Linked DNA regions of Homo sapiens: region 2 is linked to region 1. Evidence: fine-mapped expression QTL. A gene starts in region 1. The other region holds a variant in brackets. All regions are shown on one strand. Distances are from middle to middle.

Region 1 (8,449 bases):
AGCCCCTGCTCTGGTCCAACCCACTTACTTACCCTGGGAGGGGAATGAGGCCAGAGAAGGAAGTCACCAGTCCAGCCACCCATCAGCTTCAGAAGGGGCGAAATCCCAGGCCTCCCTCCTCCAGCCCTGGTGGGGCTCCAGAGGCCGGGCAGAGGCCCACTAAACTCCAAGTGGTCTTTCCAGCACCTGCTGGAAGGCGACTTCCCTCCATCCTCCAAGGCTCCCTGCACACCCACCTGCTTTCTGGGGGACACTGGTTGCTCACTCGAGCCTCATGTGCCCCTAGAATCTAGGGCCAGCAGGCACCCCTTCCAGGCTCGGCCATTCATACTCTAACATGTCTCTCCTTCCCAGGGCTGGGCAGTGAGCTTCTTCAGAGCTGAGGTTCTTCTCTGCCACCCCCTCCTGTCTTGCAGGTGAGGAAAAAGGACTTAAAGAGGGCAAGAGCTCTTTGGGGGTTCCCTGCCAGGCACAGACGGTCACCCCACTCTCAGTGGTCCAGCCTGCACCAGAACTCTGAGGTCCTGGCAGGATTCTCAGACACTGCCCTGTCCCGTGCCTGCCCTGGCTCTGGAGTCCAAAGCCCCCTTATACCATGGCCCGGTTACCTGCTGGAAGCCAGTGCATCCTGCCCGGTGGGTCCCCTCTCTGCAGGCCCTGTGCCCGCCGATCTGGGCTGCCTTGCCTCTCTCTAGGGGATTAGCCGGGCGGTCACGGGGGCCCGGCTGTACCAGCCTCGAGGGGGCCGCTCTGTCCCGGCCTCCCACCTGAGGTCCAAAGCGCCTTAGCCCCCAGCCCACCACCGGCACAGGGCAGGACCCAGCACCTATGCTTGGTGTGTGCCCAGGGAGGGGGACCACGTCAGGTGAGGGGGCGCGCTGTGCTGCAGCCCCTTCGGTAAAACCCTTTCCCAGTCTCCCAGCCCAGAGCCGAGAGCACAGGGACTGCTACCCACTGTCCAGAGGGATGACCAAGGCCAAGTGGGGACCAGGATGAGAGCTCAGGTGTCCCCAGCCCCAGCCCCGAGTGTGACAGCACTCAAGAGTGACGCAGCCACGGCTCAAAAGCACAACTTCCCGCTCCCTCGCACTTCACACACTCACAAGCACACCAGGCCCTGCCACTCCCAGGCCTTCTCTCACACCTACAGTGGGTCCCCCACATGGGCCTTCCCCTCCCAAGTGGCCTGGAGACCCTAGGCCTCAGGGGCCACCCACACCTTCCCCCATCGCAGGGGCTGGGAGCTGTTTCCAGCCCAGCCCTCCTAGACGGGCAGCCTCACACCCCTCCCCTGCTCCCCACAGACATTCTTGAGTCTCCTCTTATCTCTCTGGAGGGAGTAGCGCAGCCTCCCCCCGCCAGGCCGCTGCATGGCTAAGCCGTGGCGTCAGCCCCCACCCCCCAACCCATGGTCAGGAGGGAGCCAGGGAGTCCAGGCCAGCCAGGCCCACCCCTCTGCTCTCTGTCAGGGCCCAGCGTCCTGGGGCAGGCAGTGTGGAGGTCAAGGGAGCCTGGCCTGCGGGTCCTCTGGGTACCTAGCAGGCTCAAGGCACTCCAGACAGTAACCCAAGCAAGCACGAATGTCTGGTCCCCTCTTCCCTGAAGGTCTCAAACCGCGTCAGGCCCCTCGAGAGCTCCTATGGATCAACAGTGTCTGGGGAGAGCCAGAGCCCCGGGACAGATGCAGGGCTGCCTAAGACCCTCAGATGGCCCACCTGATGCAGAGTCAACCATTCAATCTAGTCCAAGCCTGAACTCTTGGGTTCTGGGTCTGTGGGGTGTCCAGAATCCTGGAGTGGGATGACTGAGGCTTAGGGGTGCCCCTGCCTGGGCTGCTCAGCCAGCAGGTGTGAACAAGGGTTCCTGCCTCCCAAGTCACAGAGGGAGAGAAACTGAGGCACCGGAAGACCTGCTTCTCTCCTCCACAGGACTCCACAGGAATCTGGGGCTTGAAACTTGGGCCTTGGTTCCCTGCCCTGTAGCCCTGATAGGTTCACACATGAAGGGAAGGTTCTCAATGCACCAAGGAGCAGGATGTGGCCTTAGGGACTAGAGGGAGCTCGGGGCAGGGGCTGGGCTCGCTGCATTGGTAGACAGGGGCACAAAAGGGGGCCAGAGGGTCTGGCTAGATGTTCCAGGGAGGTTCTGAGAAGCGGAGTGGGCTGGGAGGCAGTCAGCCAGAACTTCCCCTCCCCCTCCCACTGCGGTCCCATCCCTCCAGAACCCAGCACCAGGAGGAGTGGTGGCCCTGCAGGAGGGGCAGGGGTCGTCCAGGAAAAGACAGGGAGTTGGTTAGATGGAGGAGCAGACCTCCAAAACCAATGTAGGGGTGGGGGCAGAAGAAGATATTATGGGGTGTATGTCAATTCCACCCCAGAGGGCTCCTTTCGGTCAAGTGGGGGTGAGGTCACTCTTTGAGGGGGCGAGGTCAGAGAGGCACAGCTCCAGGGTTGGGGGGACATAGTGCTGAGGAGCCTCAGAGGGCTGGTGGGATGCAGTTCACAGCACTAGAAGGGTCTCAGAGAGCAGAGGTGACCGGTGGCAGGGATGTCAGCTTCAAGAAGGTTCCAGCCCCAGGAGAGCATGCTAGGGAGGGGGGTCCCAGCCCCAAACAGGAGAGCAGTCACTAGGCAGCATTGTGGAAAGCAGGTGGCAGTCTCCAAGGGGATCCAGGCTCGAAAGTGGTCCTACCCTCATGGAAGCACAGTGGGGAGGTCCCAGCTCCTAGAAGTCATGGGGGATGGCGCCAACCAGAAGGGCACACAGGGGGTCTTGGTCTCTAGGCGGGGGTCACAGATTCTGGGAAGCAGGCTGGGGTCCAGCCTCAAGAGGTACGGAAGGTCCTAGAAGGCACACCGGGGGTCTGGGCCTTGAATGGGGTTGTATCCCGCTTGGGGTTCTGGGGAAGCAAAGTAGAGGGTCCCCAGACTCGGGAAGTTTGCTGGGGGCGAGAGTGTCACAATTTAGGGAAAGTTCCGGGTCCTGGAAGGCTCAAAGGAGTCCGGACCTGGAAGGGGACACAGTCCCAAGGAAGCTGCGAGTTGAGGAGCGGGGAGGGGGAGCCCAACTTCAGCGGCGGTGGGTGGTAACCGCTGGGGGACTCCCAGCCCCGGGAGCCTGTCTTGGCGGGCTGGTGCCAGCCTGAAGGAGGGTCCCAGCCAGAGGAGGCGGAAACACAGCGAGGAGCCCCAGTTCCCGGGGAGATCAGCCGGGGGTTCCCAGCGCCAGAGGGTCGCCGCCGCCAGCCCGCGGTCTCTCACCTTCGAAGAAGCGCTGCAGCGCCTCCGTCTCGTCCACCACCTCCATGTCCCGCCTGCCCGGCGCACACTCCAGCCGCGGCCCCGCTACAGCCCGGCCCGGGGGCGCGGCATCGCCGGCGCGGCCCGCGCGACAGTCCCGGCTGGGCTCCGGCTACGGTCCCGCCCGGTCCGCCGCCGCGCTTGCCCCCCGCGCGTCCCTGGCCCGGCCCCTGCCCGCCCCACGCGCCCCGCCCGCCGCGCCCAGCGCCCCCTGCCGGCCCGCGCCGCGCCCAGCCCGGCCGCGGGCACCACGCTCCCGACTCCTGCAGGCGGCGCTCAGCGCTGGGCAGTCCTAGGCTTGCGGGGCGCGGGGCCGTCCCGGGTCGGGGGACGCGAGACCGTCCCAGGCTTGAGGGGCGCGGGGCCTTCCCGGGTCGGGGTGGGGGCGAAGGGCCGCTTGGCCTCTGTGGGGTCGGGACTGGAAGGGTGTGCCCTCGCCGTCCTCGCCTTCGTCTTGCACGGGACAAGATGTCACGATTCCGAATCCAAACCTCAGAGACAGCCCCCATCCCTCTCGTTAGCCACCCACACACCCCGCTCAGCAACAATAACAACCTGCATTTAGGGAACGTGTGTTATGTGCCAGGCCACACAGGCATTATCTCATGTACTCCTCACAGGCACCTTATCAAGGAGATGCTGTTGTTACCTGCATTTTACAGATGGGGAAACTGAGGCTCAATGCATTAAGGACTGCCAGGAAGCCCTGTCCTGTGGCTGTGATGATGGAAATGTTCCCTGTGTTGTTCAGTATGGTAGTCACTGGCCACAAGTGAGCACTGGAAATGTGCCTATTGAGACTGAGGAACTGATTTTTTCATTTTGTTTAATTGTAATTAAACAGTTACGTGTGGCTGTGGTATTGGACAATGCAGGTCTAAAAGCTCCTTTTTTTTTTGAGATGGAGTTCGGCTCTGTCGCCCAGGCTGGAGTGCAATGGCGCGATCTCAGCTCACTGCAACATCTGCCTCCTCGGTTCAAGCGATTCTCCTGCCTCAGCCTCCCCAGTAACTGGGATTACAGGCGCCACCACGCTGGGCTAACTTGTATTTTTAGTAGAGACGGGGTTTCCTCATGTTGGCCAGGCTGGTCTCGAACTCCTGACCTTAGGTGATCAGCCCACGTTGGCCTCCCAAACTGCTGGGATTACAGGCATGAGCCACCGCTCCCCGCCCTGCCTAAGAGTTTCAAGGTCATTAAAGTTCAGAGCCAAATCCTGGCTGCCCCGGGAATCCGAACTCTCCTTTGCCGTGGCCCTGTCTGGTATAATGAAACCTGGAGGTTCTAACTCGATATAAGTCCAGGATAAAGCGGTTGTCCTTGTGCCCCTGCCTTCACCCTTATGACTGACTGCCTCCACATCTCTGTCCTGCCCAACTTGCACAGCCTCTCGTCTCACTGATATCCCCTTCAGTTCTCCCAAATCACCCTTTCTGAAACATACATCCGATCATGTCATTCCTTTGCAAAACTAAGTTTCCCTTTGCACTCAAAACAATATCTGAATGTCTTGCTCTGGTTTCTCAGGCCCCGCCTCTACCACTGGCCTCAGCTCTTCCCCTCTCTCCATTGCTCACTGAATAACAGCCACCAAGACCTCCTTGCCATTGCTCAAACATGCAAGGCCTACACCTGCCACAGGGCCTTGGCACATGCTATTCCATCTGTTTACAATGCTTGTCTCCACATGGCTACTTCTTTGTAGCAGTTGGTCTCAGCTCAAATGTCATGTCCCCAACCAGCCTACCTAAAGCAGTTCTCCCTACCTAGGCCTTTCTTGCTCACCATGTAAAAGATTCCTATTTAGTTTCTGTTATTATCCTTCTTGCTCTAGAATGGAAGCCCTACGAGGGCAAGATATTTTTCTGTATCGGTCACTGCTATAGCTTCAACACCAAGAACATGACCTGGCACACAGTAGGTGCTCAATAAATGTGTTGAATGAATGTATGGTGGCATCTTCAAACTACCGAATCCAGTCAGGCTCCAGTGGCTCACACCTGTAATCCCAGCACTTTGGGAGGTTGAGGCAGGAGGATTGCTTGAGGCCAGGAGTTCGAGACCAGCCTGGGCAACATGGCAAGACCCTGTCTCTACAAAAAATTAAAAAATTAACTAGGCACGGTGGCACATGCCTGTGATCCCAGCTACTGGGGAGGCTGAGGAAGGAGAATCGCTTGAGCCCAGGAGGTTGAGGCTGCAGTGAGGCTGCAGTGAGCCATGTTTGCACCACTGCACTCCAGCCTGGGCGACAGAGCAAAACCCTGTCTCCAAACACAAACAAACAAACAAACAAAAATCTACAGAATCCTGGACCTCTGAAACCTTGGGAGCGGATAATTCTGGAATCCCAGACCTAGAGAATCATCCCGCTTCAGAGTGGCTCAACTTGAAGCCTCTCGGGACCCTTCAAGGCAGCACGTAAAAGCTGGAAAAACCTACCCCACCCAACCACTGTTTGACAAGCCACTAAACAGAGGCCAGAGGTGTGGGGGACTGCTGGCAGATCAAGATGCCAACGTAGCCAGCTTCGGACTCTCACCTCTGCCTTGCAGCATCCCCAGGGAGGGTGGGGCACAAGCCAGGCCACCCCGTGGGGATGGGGTGAGAGGCCTGGAAGCCGCTCCCACCCCAGCCTCCCTGTCAGTTCTCAGTGGCCAGCCGTGGGGGAGGGGCAGCCAATGCCTGAGCCCCAGATGTGGCCCAGTCAGCAGGCCCATGGTGGCCCGCCGAAAAGGGTCAATGCCACGACAGTTCTGGGGTTGGGGGAGGGGGTGCTGAGGCCGGCGGGTGCCTCACAATGAGGTTTTGTCCCTCTGGGGGCCGCTCTCAGAGCTGTTGCTCTTAGATATATAGAATGGGATTTTGCTGGAGGCCCCAGCTGTGTGTGCTGACCGCAGCTCCCTCACCGCCCCCGCAGGGGCTGGGCTGAGAGGGGGGAGAGGGGCCACACTGAGACTCCTATTCTTTTCCAGCTGATACACCCCAGAGGTTTTTCTCCCTCCGCAGACTCCCTTAAGACAATTGTTATTCTCCACCCTGCCCCTCCTCCACCCGGGGTCAGGCCTGCCTGCGGACAAAGTAGACACCCGCCTACACCACGCGATTCTGAGAAACGGATTTACATTACGAGTCGCCTGGGACCAGCCACAGAACCAGCTTCTCTACAAGCCTCCACATACCCACGGATCTTTCCTCCGTATCCCACATACTGCATAACTGACCATCATCTAAGTTCTCACCACCATCCGTTGAGCTACACATTGTCCCTGTCCTGGTCAGCAAGGGCTGGAGGTAGAAGGGAAGACTCGTACTTTGTCCCTAACGCCCCAACTCCATTGCATTATAATCAATTAAGAGTATAGATTATTCAATCTCTAGGGTAGCCTTGAAGTTGGAAGGGGTGGAATGGAGCCTCCTGTTAACCCTGTAGCAGCTGACCTGGCTAAGGGAGCTCAGGCCCTGCCATCTCCCCTGTTACACTAGGTCACTGAGCAAAGGAGCAACTGTCCCCAGGGATTTTCATCTCTGGACTGGAGGAAAGAGGTGGCTGAAATGTCCCAGACTCAAGGGCTCAGCCAAGAGTTGAGGCTGCCATCTGCCAACTCCATAATGAAGTTGGGTCCCAAGCAGCGCTGGGGCAGAGGCTGGGGCAGGAAGGTGGCTGGGCCGGTGAAAGTAGCCCAGGGGACTTGCATACAAGGACCTAGGGGGGCCCATCAATGGAGATGAGTCCTCATCTGTGCCCCTGGCTTCTCTACCGAGCCACAGTGAGTGAGGGGCTGAGATTTCAGCCCTAGCCCAGCAGACATGGCTGTCCCCTGTAGCCAGCTCCACCTAGTCCCCAAGGCCTGCCCTCTGTCCTCAGAGGCCTCATCTATAAAGCACACTCAGTATCCCTGCCTTACAGTGGAGGTAAAGTGCCAGGTCAGTGATCAGTAAATGGTGCCCTCTCCAGTTCCAATCAGCTCTCAGCACCCATCACTGTCCCTTGAGTGGGAGCAGGGCCAGGAGGAGGTGGTAGACCGAAGGCAGCACTGGGGAGAGGGATGCTGGCACCTGAGGGTTAATGGGTAATGGGCGTAGAGGCCAGCCCAGGAGAAGGTACAGCCCTGTCCTCCCCACCGTGGGACTCTCCTGGCCTCCTGTGGACCCACACAGCACTGGCATCAGGCCATTTCGCAGAGGAAGAGGAGGGCTCAAAGTGGGGTGAGTGTCAATCCAGCAAGCCAGTGAGGCTGGTGGTCCAGCTTCCCCGGACTAGGGCCCAAGGGCACACCTGAGTGTGGGGTCCTGCAGGGTAGACCCCTTCCTGACTGCAGGGGCACCGGGACAGGAGGGGGCTGCTGCAGGTATTGAGTGGAGCGTGAGGCAGAGTGCCTCTCTAGCCCTTCCCAGCACTGCCCTCTCAAGACCCTCCCCAATGCCACACCCTGGCTGCAGCCCCGGGCAAGCCACAGAGCCTCCCTGGCCTTCAGTTTCTTCTGCCTGTGCTGTGCTCACTGGACAGGATAATTTGCAGACCATTGAGACCACTGAGGGCAAAGAACCTCTGAAAGCCATCAGGTGTGGTGGAGGCCAGAGTCCTAGGCTGAGAGGCCCTGATTCTGGTCCCCAGTCTGTCCCCACCTCCCATGCGACCTTGGGCAGGTCTTCACCCTTGTTTGGCCCGTTTCTGCTTCTGTTCAGTGGCTGTGGGTGAAGACAGGCTCTAAGGCTGGGGGCATTCTTCTATCACTCTCCCCAGCCCCTCACCAAATAGAGCCACTGGACACTGGGGGCCGAGATGGGGGCAGGGTCAGGGGAAGGGAAAGGTCCGGTCAGCTTGGCTGGGTCAGTGCCGAGGCCAGACTCTGCGGCCAAGGCGGGACTGACTGGCTGAACAGCGCCACCTGCTGTGTAGAGGGGGCAGGCCCCACCACCTGGGCCTTCCAGCCACTCCCTAGGCCTCACTGCCCGGAAGCTATGCTGGCCTGGGGTTCCTGGGCTGCACTGGGTCTGGCCAGGTATTTTGCGCCCTCTCAGGAAAGCCCTCAGCAAAGACTTCTAGTGGCCCCTGCATTTCAGTGCTGTCCCACTGGGATCTTCCACCCCTGCCTGCCCTAGCTGTCTGCATTGTTGGGGAGGGAGGTGGGCATGGTCAGACTAGC
Region 2 (8,000 bases), 890 kb before region 1:
GGGCATGGTGGTGGGCACCTGTAATCCCAGCTGCTCGGGAGGCTGAGGCGGGAGAATCGCTTGAACCCAGGAGGCAGAGGTTGCAGTGAGCTGAGATCATGTCACTGCACTCCAACCTGGGTGACAGAGCAAGGCTCCATCTCAAAAAAAAAAAAAAAGTCTGATGCCCAGGCTTCTCTCTGATTAAGTTAAAATTTTTAGAAGTGAGACCAGGTCACTGATATTGTTAAAAACTGCAGGCAGGCTGGGCACAGTGGCTGACACTATAATCCCAACACTTTGGGAGGCCAAGATGGGAGGACTGCTTGAGCCCAGGAGTTTAAGACCAGCCTGGGCAACAAAGTGAGGCCCTGTTGCTACCAAAAAAAATTTTTATTTATTTTTTTTGAGTCAGAGTCACGCTCTGTTGCCCAGGCTGGAGTGCAATGGCATGATCTGCTCAGTGTAACCTCCACCTCCTGGTTCAAGCAGTTCTCCTGCCTCAGCCTCCTGAATAGCTGGGATTACAGGCCCCTGCTCCCATGCCTGGCTAATTTTTGTATTTTTAGTAGAGATGGGGTTTCACCATATTGGCCAGGCTGGTCTCTTTGCCAGCCTGGTCTCGAACTCCTGACCTTGTGATCCGCCCACCCCGGCCTCCCAAAGTGCTGGGTTTACAGGTGTGAGCCACTGCGCCTGGCCAGAAAAAAAACAAAAACCACAACTTTTTAAAAATTAGCTGGGTGCTGTGGCGAGCAACTGTAGTCCCAGCTACTTGGGAGGGTGAGGCAGGTGGATCACCTGAGGTCAGGAATTCAAGATCAGCCTGGCCAACATGGTGAAACTCCGTCTCTACCAAAAATACAAAAATTAGCTGGGCATGGTGGCGTGCTCCTGTAATTCAGTTACTTAGGAGGTTGAGGCATGGGAATTGCTTGAACCTGGGAGGCGGAGGTTACAGTGAGCTGAGATCATGCCATGGCACTCTAGCCAGGGTGATGGAGTGAGACTGTCTCAAAGCAAAAAACAAAAACTGCAGGCAGTATTAAAAACTAGTAATATAAAGTGATTACCCAGGCCCCTAGGGGTGCATTAGGGCTCAGAACATTTTAGCTATTGTTATTTTTTTTCAGCTTTGGGTAGTGATGGTGGTGTTTTGAAGATACAGGAGTAGAAATCAGAGAAACAGGCTGCCTAGGGTGCTAGGGATGTTAGGACCCTAGGAACTGTAACCAGCAGGCTAGCTGAGGGTACATCTTTTTTTTTTTTTTTTTTCTGAGAGTTTTGCTCCATCACCTAGGCTGGAGTGCAGTAGCACAATCTTGGCTCACTGCAACCTCTGCCTCCCGGGTTCAAGCGATTCTCATGCCTCAGCCTCCCGAGTAGCTGTCACTACAGATGCTCAACGCCATGCCCAGCTAATTTTTGTATTTTAAGTAGAGATGGGGTTTCATCATGTTGGCCAGGCTGGTCTTGAACTCCTGACCTCAAGTGATCCACCCGCCTCAGCCTCCCAAAGTGGTGGGATTACAGACGTGACATGAGCCACTGCGCCCGGCCTTCATGTTTAGCTCTTTAACTTTGCATCCACCCAATGCCTTGCCGATAGAAAGATGTGGCTTGCTTTGTTTCTCTGTTCCACGCATATGGTACTACCATTTCCTCTGAGACTGGCTGTTACTGCTCCTTTCCTCTGAGAGGCTGATGTCACCAGAGTCAACACCAGGGCCTCTGAAGGTGAAAGATCCTCTGTGTACTCTGCCTTTTTTTTTTTTTTTTTTTTTGAGAGGGAGTTTTACTTTGTCGCCCAGGCTGGAGTGCAGTGGAGTGATCTCAGCTCACTGCAAGCTCCACCTCCCAGGTTCACACCATTCTCCTGCCTCAGCCTCCCGAGTAGCTGGGACTACAGCTGCCCACCACCACGCCTGGATAATTTTGTGTATTTTTAATAGAGACAGAGTTTCACCGTGTTAGCCAGGATGGTCTCAAACTCCTGACCTCGTGATCTGTCAGCCTTGGCCTCCCTAAGTGCTGGGATTACAGGCATGAGCCACCGCACCCGGCCCTTTTTTTTTTTTTTTTTGGAGATGGAGTCTCACTCTGTCACCCAGGCTGGAGTGCAGTGGTGCGATCTTGACTCACTGCAAGTTCTGCCTCCCGGATTCATGCCATTCTCCAGCTCCAGCCTCCCAAGTAGCTGGGACTACAGACACCTGCCACCACGCCCGGCTAATTTTTTGTATTTTTAGTAGAGACGGGGTTTCACTGTGTTAGCCAGGATGGTCTCGATCTCCTGACCTCGTGATCCGCCCACTTCAGCCTCCCAGAGTGCTGGGATTACAGGCGTGAGCCACCGCGCCTGGCTTTTTTTTTTTTTTTTTTTTTTTTGTCTAGCTCTGTCGCCCAGGCTGGAGTGCAGTGGCACGATCTTGGCTCACTGTAAGCTCCGCCTCCTGGGTTCACGCCATTCTCCTGCCTCAGCCTCCCGAGTAGCTGGGACTTCAGGTGGCCGCCACCACGCCCAGCTAATTTTTTTTGTATTTTTAGTAGAGACAGGGTTTCACCGTGTTAGCCAGGATGGTCTTGATCTCCTGACCTCGTGATCCGCCCGCCGCAGCCTCCCAAAGTGCTGGGATTACAGGAGTGAGCCACCACGCCCAGCCTACTCTGCCTTTCAAAGGGAAGGTGTGAGTGAGCCAACTTCTCAGGCCTGATCCTTAACCCTGTGTCCACTCTGCCTTGTTTTGTATTTGATGTGACTACATCTTTCTCCCCTCTTTCCTCAACTATCTTCTAGTGCTATGACAGGAAGAAGCTTTTCCTTTTGAAGGGGGCCCCTTCTGACCTCCATGCTGATTGCTCTGTCTTTGTCCTTTTCTCCTTAGGTCTTGGGCGTCTTTGGTACTGGCTTTTTTAGGGGTCTGCCTGGGGATTACCCTTGCTGTGGATAGAAGCAACTTTAAGACCTGTGAAGAGAGTTCTTTCTGCAAGTATGATATTTCTGGGGGAGAGGGATGGAATGTAGGGTTGTAGGGTAATGTGGGAGATATCTGTGGCAGATGGAGTGCCTAAGGACACTGCAGGTGATAGACTGACTTAGGGACATTGCAGGTGGCCTTTACCTTACTTCCCAACCCTTCACTTGGCAGGCGACAGAGAAGCATACGGCCAGGCCTCTCTCCATACCGAGCCTTGCTGGACTCTCTACAGCTTGGTCCTGATTCCCTCACGGTCCATCTGATCCATGAGGTCACCAAGGTCAGGAGAGACAAGGAAGAGTCTGGTGGGGGTGGGGCAATGGCTGTGGGGTAATTTGGAAAGGGGGAAATTGTGGCCAACATCTTGTCCCAGCCTAATCTTTGGACTTTTACTTTATGAAGAAATGTGATCTTGGCCTTTAGGCAAAGGGCTCAAAGGAAGAAACCCCTTAGGAGAGAATGGGTTCAAAGAGCATTCCATGGTGTATCCCATTTCCTTTCTCCAGATCCAAACCTCTGTCCCCGCAGGTGTTGCTGGTGCTAGAGCTTCAGGGGCTTCAAAAGAACATGACTCGGTTCAGGATTGATGAGCTGGAGCCTCGGCGACCCCGATACCGTGTACCAGATGTTTTGGTGGCTGATCCACCAATAGCCCGGTAAATTTTTCCTGAGAAACATCCATTTCTGTGGCCCCTTTCTCCTTCCTGATGAACCTTTTTTTGGTTGCTGATATTCTTTCCCAAAATAAGGTAGTAGTTAACTAGCATAGCACCTTGCCATACTCCTCAACCTTTCCCCACCTCTTCTTCTGTTTCACTTTTCTCTTTATCCCTTTATCCTCATTCATTCATTCAGCAAACAATTATTGCTTTTTCCTCCCTGACAGGCCTGGGCTGGATGCTGGTTATATAAGCAGAAATAAACAAGGCCCTGTTTATTTACAGATCTCGTTCTCCAGGAATACAATGTCTACCTGCTTGCTTGTTTGCTTGCTTCCTTCCTTCCTTCCTTCCTTCCTTCCTTCCTTCCTTCCTTCCTTCCTTCCTTCCTTCCTTCCTCCTTTCCTTTTCCTTAGATATTCAGAATAGGATTACTCAGATTCTTGTGTCATGATACTCTGTCACCAGTGTTCCATGCATCCATCCATGACTTTCTCTTAAATACATAATTCAGAAAATAACATAGTGGCCGGGCATGGTGGCTCAACGCCTGTAATCCCAGCACTTTGGGAGGTCGAGGTGGGCAGATCACGAGGTCAGGAGTTGGAGACCAGCTTGGCCAACATGGTGAAACCCCATCTCTACTAAAAATACAAAAATCAGCCAGGTGTGGTGGTGCGGACCTGTAATCCCAGCTACTCAGGAGGCCGAGGCAGGACGGTTACTTGAACCCAGGAGGCAGAGGTTGCAGTGAGCCGAGATTGTGTCACTGCACTACAGCCTGGGCGACAGAGTGAGACTCCGTCTCAAATACTCCACCCTATAAACTCTTCACTCAGCCCAACCCGCACTGTCCTGTACCCTTGACGGCTCCAGACGTAGGTAGTCGTTATTCTGAAGCTTATCCTTCCTTTGCCTTTTTTTTGTTCTTACAGTTGTATTATGTGTGTATACATATGCACACATATGTCTGTGTGCCTAAGCAATAAATTATATATATTTTTTGTTTTTGAGCTTTACAGAGGAAGTGTCTTAGTGCATGTGGTCTTCTGGGGTTTCCGTTTTTTCTTTTTTTTTTTTT[G/TG]AGATGGAGTCTCGCTGTCTCCCAGGCTGGAGTACAGTGGCGTGATCTGCGTTAGCCAGGATGGTCTCAATCTCCTGACCTCGTGATCCGCCCGCCTCAGCCTCCCAAAGTGCTGGAATTACAGGTGTGAGCCACCGCGCCCGGCTGGGTTTCCGTTTTTCACATAACTTTATTTAATTCCATTTCATATAGCTCTAGTTCATTCATTTTTACTGCTGCATATTATTATGTTGTATGAATATACCCCAACTGATTAATCCATTTTTAGGTTGATAAGCCTTGGGGTTGTTTCCAGTGTTTTGCTAGCCAAAGTGTTGCTACGAACCTTCTTGTACATGTCTCCTGTTATCCTTGCTTGGGAGTTTCTCTTTGGTGTATAACTAGGAGAGGAATTGCAGGATTGTAGAATATGGAGATGATCAGCTTCGCAAGATAAAGCCAAAGTGGTTTACCAATTTACACTTCCACCAGTGATTTATAAGAAGCCCTCATTGAAGCTGGGCAAGCCAGGATGGTCTCGATCTCCTGACATCGTGATCTGCCCATCTCAGCCTCCCAAAGTGCTAGGATTACAGGCTTGAGCCACCACACCCGGCCAGCCTTCCCTATTATTAATATGACTATGGTTCATTTGTGATACCTAGTGAATTGATAGTGATACATTAGTTACTAAAGTTCATACTTGAGGTTTCTTTAGTTTTTGTGTATGTTCTTTTTCTGTTCCAGGATTTCATCCAGGATATGTTATTACATTTAGTTGTCATGTTTCCTTAGGGCCCTCTAGACTGATAAAATTTCTTAGACTTTTCCTTTTTCTTAATGATCCTAAAGGTACTTTTGATAAACAGAAATTCCTAATTTTAATGTATTTAGATGTATCAGTCTTTTACCTTCTGTTGTTAGCCTTTTGTTTGTTGTATTTAGTCTTTATCTACCCCAAGGTCAGAAAAAAATATATATATATATATTTTTTGAGACAGAGTCTTGCTCTGTTGCTTAGGCTGAGTGCAGTAGTGCGATCTTGGCTCACCACAACCTCCGCCTCCTGTGTTGAAGCGATTCTTTCTTCAGCATCAGCCTCCCGAGTAGCTGGGACTACAGGCGTGCACCACTATGCCTGAGTAGCTGGGACTACAGGCGTGCACCACTATGCCCGAGTAGCTGGGACTGCAGGCTCATGCCACTATGCCCAAGTAGCTGGGACTACAGGCGTGCGTCACTATACCCGGCTACTTTTTGTATTTTTAGTAGAGACAGGGTTTCACTATGTTGACCAGGCTGGTCTCAAACTCCTGACCTCATGATCCACCTGCCTCGGCCTCCGAAAGTGCTGAGATTACAGGAATGAGCCACCATGCCTGGCCAAAAATATATTTTTTAATTTTCTTCTAACACTTTTGCTTTCATTTATTTACTTATTTTGAGATCGGGTTATGAGACTGGCTAATTTTTGTATTTTTGGTAGAGATGGGTTTTTGCCATGTTGCCCAGTCTGGTCTTGAACACCAGGGCTCAAGCGATCCACCTGCCTCGGCCTCCCAAAGTGCTGGGATTACAATAGTGGGCCACCGAGCCCATCCTAAAGCTTTTACTTTTAAATTTTAAGCAGGCTGGGTGTGATGGCTCATACCTGTAATCCCAGCACTTCGAGAGGCCAAGGCGGACAGATCACTTGAGGTCAGGAGTACAAGACCAGCCTGGTCAACATGGTGAAACCCCGTCTCTACTGAAAATACAAAACTTAGCCGGGCGTGGTGGTGGGCGCCTGTAATTCCAGCTACTCGGGTGCCTGATGCACAAGAATCACTTGAAACTGGGAGGCAGAGGTTGCAATGAGCCGAGATTGTGCCACTGCACTCCAGTCTGGGTGATAGAGTGAGACTATCTTAAGAAAAAAAAATTTTTTAAGTCATAATCTTTCTGCAGTTGATACTTGTATCTGGTATTAGATAGAAATATGATATCAAGGGGTTGGGCGTGGTAGCTCATGCCTGTAATCCCAGCACTTTGGGAGGCCGAGGCAAGTGGATCACTTGAGGTCAGGAGTTTGAGATTAGCCTGGCCAACATGGCGAAAAATCATATCTCCTAAAAATACAAAAAAAAATTAGCCGGGTGTGGTGGCACCTGCCTGTAATATCAGTTACTAGGGAGGCTGAGTCAGGAGAATCACTTGAACCTGGAAGGTGGAGGTTGCAGTGAGCCAAGGTTGTGCCACTGTGCTCCAGCCTGGGCAACAGAGCGAGACTCCATCTCAAAAAAAAAAAAAAGAAGTACATCATTTTTCTTCATATTTGGAAAATCATTTTTTTTCCTATATGGAAAATGTTTTTTCAGTTCCATTTTTGAATAGTTCTCCTTTCCTCTCTCATCTGCTATGCCACCTCTTAGTATTTAGTACATTTAAAAAAGTAATAAGTGGCCAGGCACAGTGGCTCACGCCTGTAATCCCAGCACTTTGCGAGGCCGAGGTGGGTGGATCACCTGAGGTCAGGAGTTTGAGACCAGCCTCAACATGAAGAAACCCCATCTCTACTAAAAATACAAAATTAGCCAGGTGTGGTGGTGCATGCCTGTAATCCCAGCTATTTGGAGGCTGAGGCAGGAGAATTGCTTGAACCTGGGAGACGGAGGTTGCGGTGAGCCGAGATTGCGCCATTGCACTCCAGCCTGGGCAACAAGAGTGAAACTCCGTCTCAAAAAAAAAAAAGAAAAAAGTAATAAATATGCTTGGGTCTGTTTCTGGGCCCTTTGGTTCTGTTTATTAACTTGTCTATCCCTGCTCTGTTACCACACTGCCTATTTCTCTTAACAGGTAGATTTCCCCCGGTCTTCTAAAGTGTCATTACTCCTCTTGGCCCTTTGTACTTCCTTATATTTCTTTTGATATGTTTCCCAGGCTTTCTGTCTCTGGTCGTGATGAGAACAGTGTGGAGTTAACCATGGCTGAGGGACCCTACAAGATCATCTTGACAGCACGGCCATTCCGCCTTGACCTACTAGAGGACCGAAGTCTTTTGCTTAGTGTCAATGCCCGAGGACTCTTGGAGTTTGAGCATCAGAGGGCCCCTAGGGTCTCGTGAGTACAGGGGTTGGGACTGCAGGGAACCTAGTGTGAAAGAGCATAGGGGTGTTGTGAGGTCTGGCACGGGGAGGAGACGGTGGTGGGACAGCCAGGTAGGGCCTGGGGGCTGGGAGAAGCTCTCTGTCAGGGAGGGTAGGAACCAGACCCGGGTGCGGTTTTTTCCATTTCCTGTACAGACCAGGAGGCAGTCACTTTTGTCCCTGAGCTGTACCCTGGGCA

Which allele goes with the higher level. Alleles are on the strand shown, and positions count from the first base shown. SD is a standard deviation of normalised expression in the study named.
As copies of G replace TG in region 2, the expression in prefrontal cortex of the gene that starts at base 3,415 in region 1 goes up (moderate effect, 0.50 SD a copy in BrainSeq).

The links.
Region 2: its variant is fine-mapped to the expression of MYRF in prefrontal cortex (BrainSeq, PIP 0.95).

The regions. Positions count from the first base shown.
Region 1 is chr11:61,747,602-61,756,050 of GRCh38, reverse strand. It overlaps MYRF (myelin regulatory factor), which reads right to left and starts at 3,415. Exons shown (of 27, transcript NM_001127392.3): 1 at 3,261-3,415. The coding sequence starts at 3,306. MYRF-AS1 (MYRF antisense RNA 1) reads left to right here. Exons shown (of 4, transcript NR_026882.1): 3 at 355-416; 4 at 1,606-2,022. RefSeq lists silencers at 3,266-3,365, 3,486-3,625 and enhancers at 6,303-7,164, 8,025-8,449.
Region 2 is chr11:62,634,596-62,642,595 of GRCh38, reverse strand. It overlaps GANAB (glucosidase II alpha subunit), which reads left to right. Exons shown (of 24, transcript NM_198334.3): 2 at 2,865-2,969; 3 at 3,129-3,237; 4 at 3,486-3,613; 5 at 7,596-7,775. Among named protein-coding and RNA genes, the nearest start is that of GANAB, 8.0 kb to the left of the region's middle. The variant G/TG (reference allele first, on the strand shown) is at 4,698.